Homo sapiens: one gene and its partner. The protein of the gene in region 1 purifies or fractionates together with the protein of each later gene. This does not show direct contact. Each region holds a gene or a part of one and is shown on either strand. Other genes may lie near its edges.

What was found. Proteins that work in one complex are often made in the same cells at the same time.
Region 2: the proteins of PGM2 (region 1) and C11orf54 fractionate together in Homo sapiens (co-fractionation; one large-scale study listed by BioGRID). This does not show direct contact.

What each region holds. Positions count from the first base shown.
Region 1 is NC_000004.12:37,843,686-37,847,185, reverse strand, and holds part of PGM2 (phosphopentomutase), read right to left. Parts: intron 2,823-3,500; coding exon 2,633-2,822; intron 1,554-2,632; coding exon 1,456-1,553; intron 256-1,455; coding exon 75-255; intron 1-74. UniProt on the Homo sapiens protein: Catalyzes the conversion of the nucleoside breakdown products ribose-1-phosphate and deoxyribose-1-phosphate to the corresponding 5-phosphopentoses.
Region 2 is NC_000011.10:93,751,672-93,755,171, reverse strand, and holds part of C11orf54 (ester hydrolase C11orf54), read right to left. Parts: intron 1,491-3,500; coding exon 1,417-1,490; exon of another isoform or gene 1,413-1,416; intron 1,237-1,412; coding exon 1,135-1,236; intron 1-1,134. UniProt on the Homo sapiens protein: Exhibits ester hydrolase activity on the substrate p-nitrophenyl acetate, in vitro. Regulates DNA damage and repair by regulating HIF1A degradation via chaperone-mediated autophagy (CMA).

The DNA of each region.
Region 1 (3,500 bases):
AAAGAGAAAGACATGCCTTAGATCTTCTACAGAGCAGATGAAAGGAAAATGAGTGAGTCCCAGAAACACCCTACCTCAAAATGAAAACCTTCCTTTAAGGCAATGGCCCGCAAGATTTTGGAGGAGACGGTGCTGGACAACATGTACGTGTCTTTGAGAGCACTGCGATCCTGGTTCTTCTCTTTCCAAGATGTAAAAAGCCACCAGCCCAGGAGGGCCCCCAACTCATTGCCTGAAAACACCCTCCATTCACCACTGAAAGAAAAAAAAAACAACAACCACCATTCATTTCCATAATCTTAAGGAAGACTCTAAAGTGTCATGGGGATAAAACAATTTAGCAAACAAAGCATCTAAGTATTTTCTGCAAGGCTGTTCTTGTTATTCATCATCTTTAAATAACTGGTCAGAAATGTAACTGCCATTTTACAAACATCTGAGCAGCTACCATATATATCAGCCAGTTTGCCTGAACAGACATCCTGTCTTTGAAGACTGTATAAAATAAGTATGTCACACATGACACACAATGGCTCTATATTAATCTTTGGCAAAGCCTTTGGTTTTAAATATAACAAATATGCTGGCAAGATCCCCCATATATAGAGTAAGTTTTGCTATCTCAATTTCTGGACTGGTCAGTATTGCTGATTCTGAGAGGGGACAGCTCAGTACCCCTTAAGATCAAGCTCAGTCCTAAATGGTCAGAACATCAGAGAAAAGATGTGTAATTTCTGCTTCTCTTGGCAGTCCAGATGGCTAGAAGTAAATCTCACCTATCAGGACGTATCATCTTAGCTTAACTTTCTCAACACTGATATAGAATGGAACCTGTTTTATCACAATCTGAAAACCCTACCATTTCAGCAGCAGCACCCTCCTGCCCCCAAAACATCACATAGGCTACCTGACGCCCAAAATTGCTTGGGCCCTGCCTACCTTTCAACTTTAGCCCCACGTACTTACTTCTCCTTTGTACAAACTCTCTGGTCAGACTTGTCTTAAACACTGTGCCGATACCCCACAGGAATTCCTCCCTGGTCTGTCCAAACTAAATTCAGCATCTCCTTGAAGGTACTGCTCCCTCCTAAACCCCTCAGCAAATACTGAAGCATACAGCTAGCACCAAAGTGCTTTACCCTCATTAGACACTGAGACATTACTTATAAAAAGATCAATTACAAAATGAGAAGTTCCCAAATAGGAGTTTCAATTTGAAATATATACTGGGTTGATTTACTCTGCATTATGCTTGCCAATCACGTAACCTCCCCCCACACTAGATCTCTATCTTGCTCTCCATTAGAAGACTCTACAGGAGGTTCAGTGAAATGATCATTTGCAAAATAAATGGGAAATGTTTCCAAATAGGTCCCGTCTCCCCAGAAACATTTTACCAATGAAGAGATCATCCTTTATATGTTCTATAATATAGGTAATCACAATTAATTTTACCTGTCTTGCTTTTCTGCCACAGCAAGTCTATCAGCATCCGGGTCGTTAGCTAAAACAATTCTGGCCTTGGTTTTGTCAGCCAAAGCAAAAGACAAAGTCTGAAGAAGAATATGAAAATAAAAGATTATTTAATCAAGAATCGAGCATATGATAGTCTTTAAAAACATTCAGTTCCTTAAGAACTCAAGAGGTCTTTCCCCTCTTAGAAAGATAATATAGGACCAACCAAGACAGCTCCAGAAGTGAAATTTAGCAAACAAAAGCTGCAGCTGGTCTTGGTTGGTCACATAGTATCTTCCTAAGTCAGAGGTCAGATAATGGGAGCATCGGTGTGTGACCCAAGCCTACCAGTGTGCCTGCTGCACATGCGCCAGTAGGTCTGTGGTTGGACTGGTATTTCGGGGCATTGCTGTGTGATCAGCCTCACAAATAAAACAAAATAAACTGATTCTCTGAATGCCACTGCTACCCCAACCTTTAAAAATGTTACAGAAACCATAATGTAAGCAACACTTCATATCAGAAAAATGACAAGAAATAAAAATCATAACCTGCTAAAGTTTCACTCTATTACTGCTTCTTTTTGGCATTAAGGAGACACGGCAAATTAAATTAAATTAAATTAACTGAATTTGAAGCACCATTTAGAGCTCAGTTCTCATATCCTGATCCTGGGGTGTTTAATTTGAAAGATCCTTTAAGAAATTAATGACTAACAAATATACATACTTCTTGTTTTTTTTTTTTTTTTTTTTGAGACAAAGTCTCGCTCTGTCACCCTGTCACCCAGGCTGGAGTGCAGTGGTGCAATCTCAGCTCACTGCAACCTCCATCTCTCAGGTTCAAACAATTCTAGCGCCTCAGCCTCCCAAGTGGCTGGGATTACAGGCATGTACCACCACACCCAGCTAATTTTTGTATTTTTAGTAGAGACAGGGTTTTGCCATGTTGGCCAGGCTGTTCTCGAACACCTGACCTCAAGTGATCTGCCTGCCTTGGTCTCCCAAAGTGCTGGGATTACAGACATGAGACGCTGCACCCAGCCAAACATACATATTTCCATGCTGAAATTAGTTTTTCTTCAGCACAATGAAAACACATAAAAATGTATTTTACTTGACAGTAATAGTTTTGAATATAAAAGCAGATTTCATAATTTAAAAAAAAATTAGGTTACCAAGACACCTTTCCCCTCTTCGGGATTCGGGTATTTCACTGTTGGAAACTCAGGATCCGGATCTTTCTGTTCAGGAACAGCCTCAGGAGGAACAAGGTCAAAAGCCTTGAAAGCTGACTGCACAAAGCTATGACCCACCCCATGGACAGAGGTGTGCACAAACTTCACCTTTGTCTCCCTGTTCACGCTCCTAGAATCAGATACACAGTGGAAAATGATACAAGGCAGAAACAGGGCTCTCAAAACTGCAAGGTTTGCAAGAATGCACAAGACAACTGAACATCTTTCTAATTCCATTTCAGAAAAACAAAACGTATCCATTCTCTCCCAGATATATATATTCCTTCCCTCAACATACTCAAGTTTTAAATTCTACTCTGTAGTTATTTTCAGCAAATCTGATTATTTCAGGTTTTGTTTTATGCATCCCATCTAGAGTGAGATACAAAGAAGAACCTCAAGCTCATGTTCCCACACGAGACTCACTGCTGGCCTGACAGGTGCCCTGACAGTGCTACAGCCAGCCCGGGACAGTTCCAGGGCTCCACACACCCACACATCCCCAAAGCGACAGGTTCCCAAATGTCTTTTATCAGCTTCAGAAATGATTTTCAAAATGTCCTTTTTAACAAAATGTGTTGGGTTATCCCATACATAAAGATATAAAAAATAAAACTTTTACTTTGGGAGGCCGAGGCAGGTGGATCGTGTGAGGTCAGGAGTTCAAAACCAGCCTGACCAACACAGAGAAACCCCATCTCTACTAAAAATACAAAATTAGCTGGGCATGGTGGTGCATGCCTGTAATCCCAGATACTTGGGAGGCTGAGGCAAGAGAATCGCTTGAACCTGGGAGGTGGAGGTTGCA
Region 2 (3,500 bases), on another chromosome or scaffold:
TCTGCAAAGAGAATATCTTGAATAATGTTACAAAACATTTAATCCTTTTAAGACATTTTAGTTCAAGTCCTAATAAGAGAACATAAAATACATAATATTTAATTTTAGACATAAAAAACTTGGAAAACATTTATAGGCCGGGCGCTGTGGCTCATGCCTGTAATCCCAGCACTTTGGGAGGCCAAGGGGGGCGGATCACGAGGTCAAGAGAAGAGATCAAGACCATCCTGGCCAACATGGTGAAAACCTGTCTCTACTAAAAATACAAAAATTAGCTGGGCGTGGTGGCACACACCTGTAGTCCCAGCTACTCAAGAGGCTGAGGCAAGAGAATTGCTTGAACCTGGGAGGTGGAGGTTGCAGTGAGCCAAGATCGCGCCACTGCACTCCAGCATGGCGACAGAGCGAGACTCCATCTCAAAAAAAAAAAAAAAAAAAAAAAAGATATTTATTGGATTTCTTACAGTGTATCTATAACTTGCGTTAAATATCTTATTTTAAATTTTTAACTTTTTTTCCTAACTTGAACACTAGGCAAATTGTACTAATGTTTCTGCAAAGAACTTGTATGACTACTATTCATATCTGAAGAGGTTATGAGAGAATGAGCAGACTGAAGTCTTGTATTCATGAGATTCAAAGAAACAGTAATATTTTCATATGGTAATAATATATACTAGTAATAACTATTAACTTTCATAAATAACCATCATACTATTGTGATAGTTTCCTACTATTTGGTGTGGAAGAAGGAGTTGACTAGATCACTAATATTCCATTCATCTTCTAATCCAAAGCTGCCTGCATACCCAAAGCAAAGATTTATAGATAAGCTCGGAATCCTGTAAGAATATAAATATTTTATAATCCAGAACCTTCAACAGAATACCATAGAACCCTGCATTTATCTAAGGCTGAAGCTATGACCTAAGAAAATCTAAAACTACAAGTTAGTACTCCATTACAGTTAGTCCAGTTGGAGTGTGTGCTATAGCAGAAATCTACATCAAGTAGTATCAAACCTGCAGAGAGATTTACAATTCACTCAGAAAGTAGGATTTTTGGCACTAAAAGCAAAAAGACAAACCAAATGTCAAACCAATAAAGTAAAATAATTTTCTTATATATGCTGACCTCAGAATTGAACCCGAGAGTCTGAAATGGACCTGCTCCTGCTCCAAGAATAAAGGCTCCAGGCAGCTTGATTTCTTTTGCAATTTTATTCAGATCATAAACCTATAGAAGAGGAAAAAATATTATTTAAGTCACAACTTGTACAAAGTCCCTGGTTTACCTTTTATTACTGATCCATTAGCACTTCCTTGCCAACTGATCAACAGGTCTTCTAATAATAAACACAGTAATCAACCCAACTTCTACAATCTTCATGTGAATATGCAGAGTAAAAGTACTTACTTTTTTTTGGTTTACAAGAGGCAATAAGTAAGGCACACCTCCAACTTCTGCAATTCTAGTTTTCCCACAGATGCCTAAGAAAAAACCAAAAAACAAAAACACAAGCCACCTTAAAAACAGGCAAACATCTAATTTAATAATAAAATGCCAACAGTATATAACTTCTCCATTATCATAAAGTTTTACAAATAACAGGGATTGGAAGACATAGTGGCTAGAACCCCTGTCCTATTTTAAGTACCTGTGTCTCTAATAATCATCATAACCAAGCATGGCTTATAAAGTTGGTGGCATAAAGGCAATACAAGGCAAGGGCAAGGGTTAGAACTGGGGCCAAAGTTTGGATTGGGTAAGGTTTCTAGAATGTCTTTGACGCCTTATTTCTTTAAAAAAAATCTATTTTGGGGTGGTTTTCCTTTTTTTGGCTAAAATTGTTTCTTGTTTTTTAATTTAAAATATTTTGCTCTGGTACAATGTAAATTCTCAGATGGTGGCTCACGCCTGCAATCCCAGCACTTTGGGAGGCTGAGGCGGGTGGATCACCTGAAGTCAGGAGTTCGAGACCAGCCTGGCCAACATGGTGAATCTCTACTAAAAATAGAAAAATTAGCTGGGCATGGTGGCGGGAGCCTATAATCCCAGCTACCAAGGAGGCTGGGGCAGGAGGATTGCTTGAACCCGGCGGGGGCAGAGGTTGCAGTGAGCCAAGATTGTGCTACTGTATTCCAGCCTGGGCAACAGAGCAAGACTCTGTCTCAAAAAACAAAACATCACGAGGTCAGGAGATCGCGACCATCCTGGCTAACACGGTGAAACCCCATCTTTACCAAAAATACAAAAAATTAGCCGGGCGTACTACTCAGGAGGCTGGGTGTACTACTCAGGAGGCTGAGGCAGGAGAATGGTGTGAACCTGGGAGGCAGAGCTGGCAGTGAGCCGAGATCGCGCCACTGCACTCCAGCCTGGGTGACAGAGCGAGACTCCGTCTCAAAAAAAAAAAAAAAAAAAACCCAGAGAGATCTAGGTGAGATGTACAAATTTCAAAGTTATATTCAGGTAGTAATTAAAACCATAAGAGTGGATTTAAAAAATACCCAGATAGATTACTAGAAATAAGAAGAGGCTAAGGAAAGAATTCTGGAAAAGATCAATATTTAAGAGACTATTAGAAAGAAAAAGGAACCAGGAAAATATGGAAGAAAAGAGGAAGGAAAGGCACAAAGGAAGAACAGGTGAAACAAGGATAGAGAAGATAGAACCTAGGGGAGAATGTCAGGCAGCAATGGCCAAGCAGTATGAAATACGTGGAGAGGTTAAATAGTACTAGTAAACATTTTAAGGTCACTGGTGATCTTAGCAAGACCAGTTCATGTAGAAAATGTCTAACACACCACTGCATCCAGCTAATTTTTGTACTTTTAGTAGAGATTGGGTTTCACCATGTTGGCCAGTTTGGTCTTAAACTCCTATGTTTATGAAAGATCATACATACACATATTAGATGCATATCTGGCTTCTAGTATTGCAATTTAAAGACTCACAAATTACTGACCAGAAAACACTTCTTCCAAGCATAACTCTGCATGACAAAATTAAGACTAACCATTTTGGCTGGGCATGATGGCTCACACCTGTAATCCCAGCACTTTGGGAGGCCGAGGCGGGCACATCACTTGAGACTGGGAGTTCGAGATCAGCCTGGCCAACATGATGAAACCCCGTCTCTACTAAAAATACAAAAATTAGCCAGGTGTCGTGGTGCACACCTGTAATCCTAGCTACTTGGGAGGGTGAGGTATGAGAATCGCCTGAACCCGGGAGGCAGAGATTGCAGTGAGCCAAGATTGTGCCACTGTACTCCACACTCCAGTCTGGGCGACAGAGCGAGATTCCATCTCACACACACACACACAAAAAAAAAAAAAAAAAAAAAAAGATTAACCATTTTTCCTTCTTTCTTGTACTCTTCTGTCTCCTGACCTTTATTTAATTTTAGTTAATTACTTAATTAGCAGGGGAAATACATTACACTCATATTTTTAAAAAAATCAAGGCTGGGCGTGGTGGCTCACGCCTGTAATCTC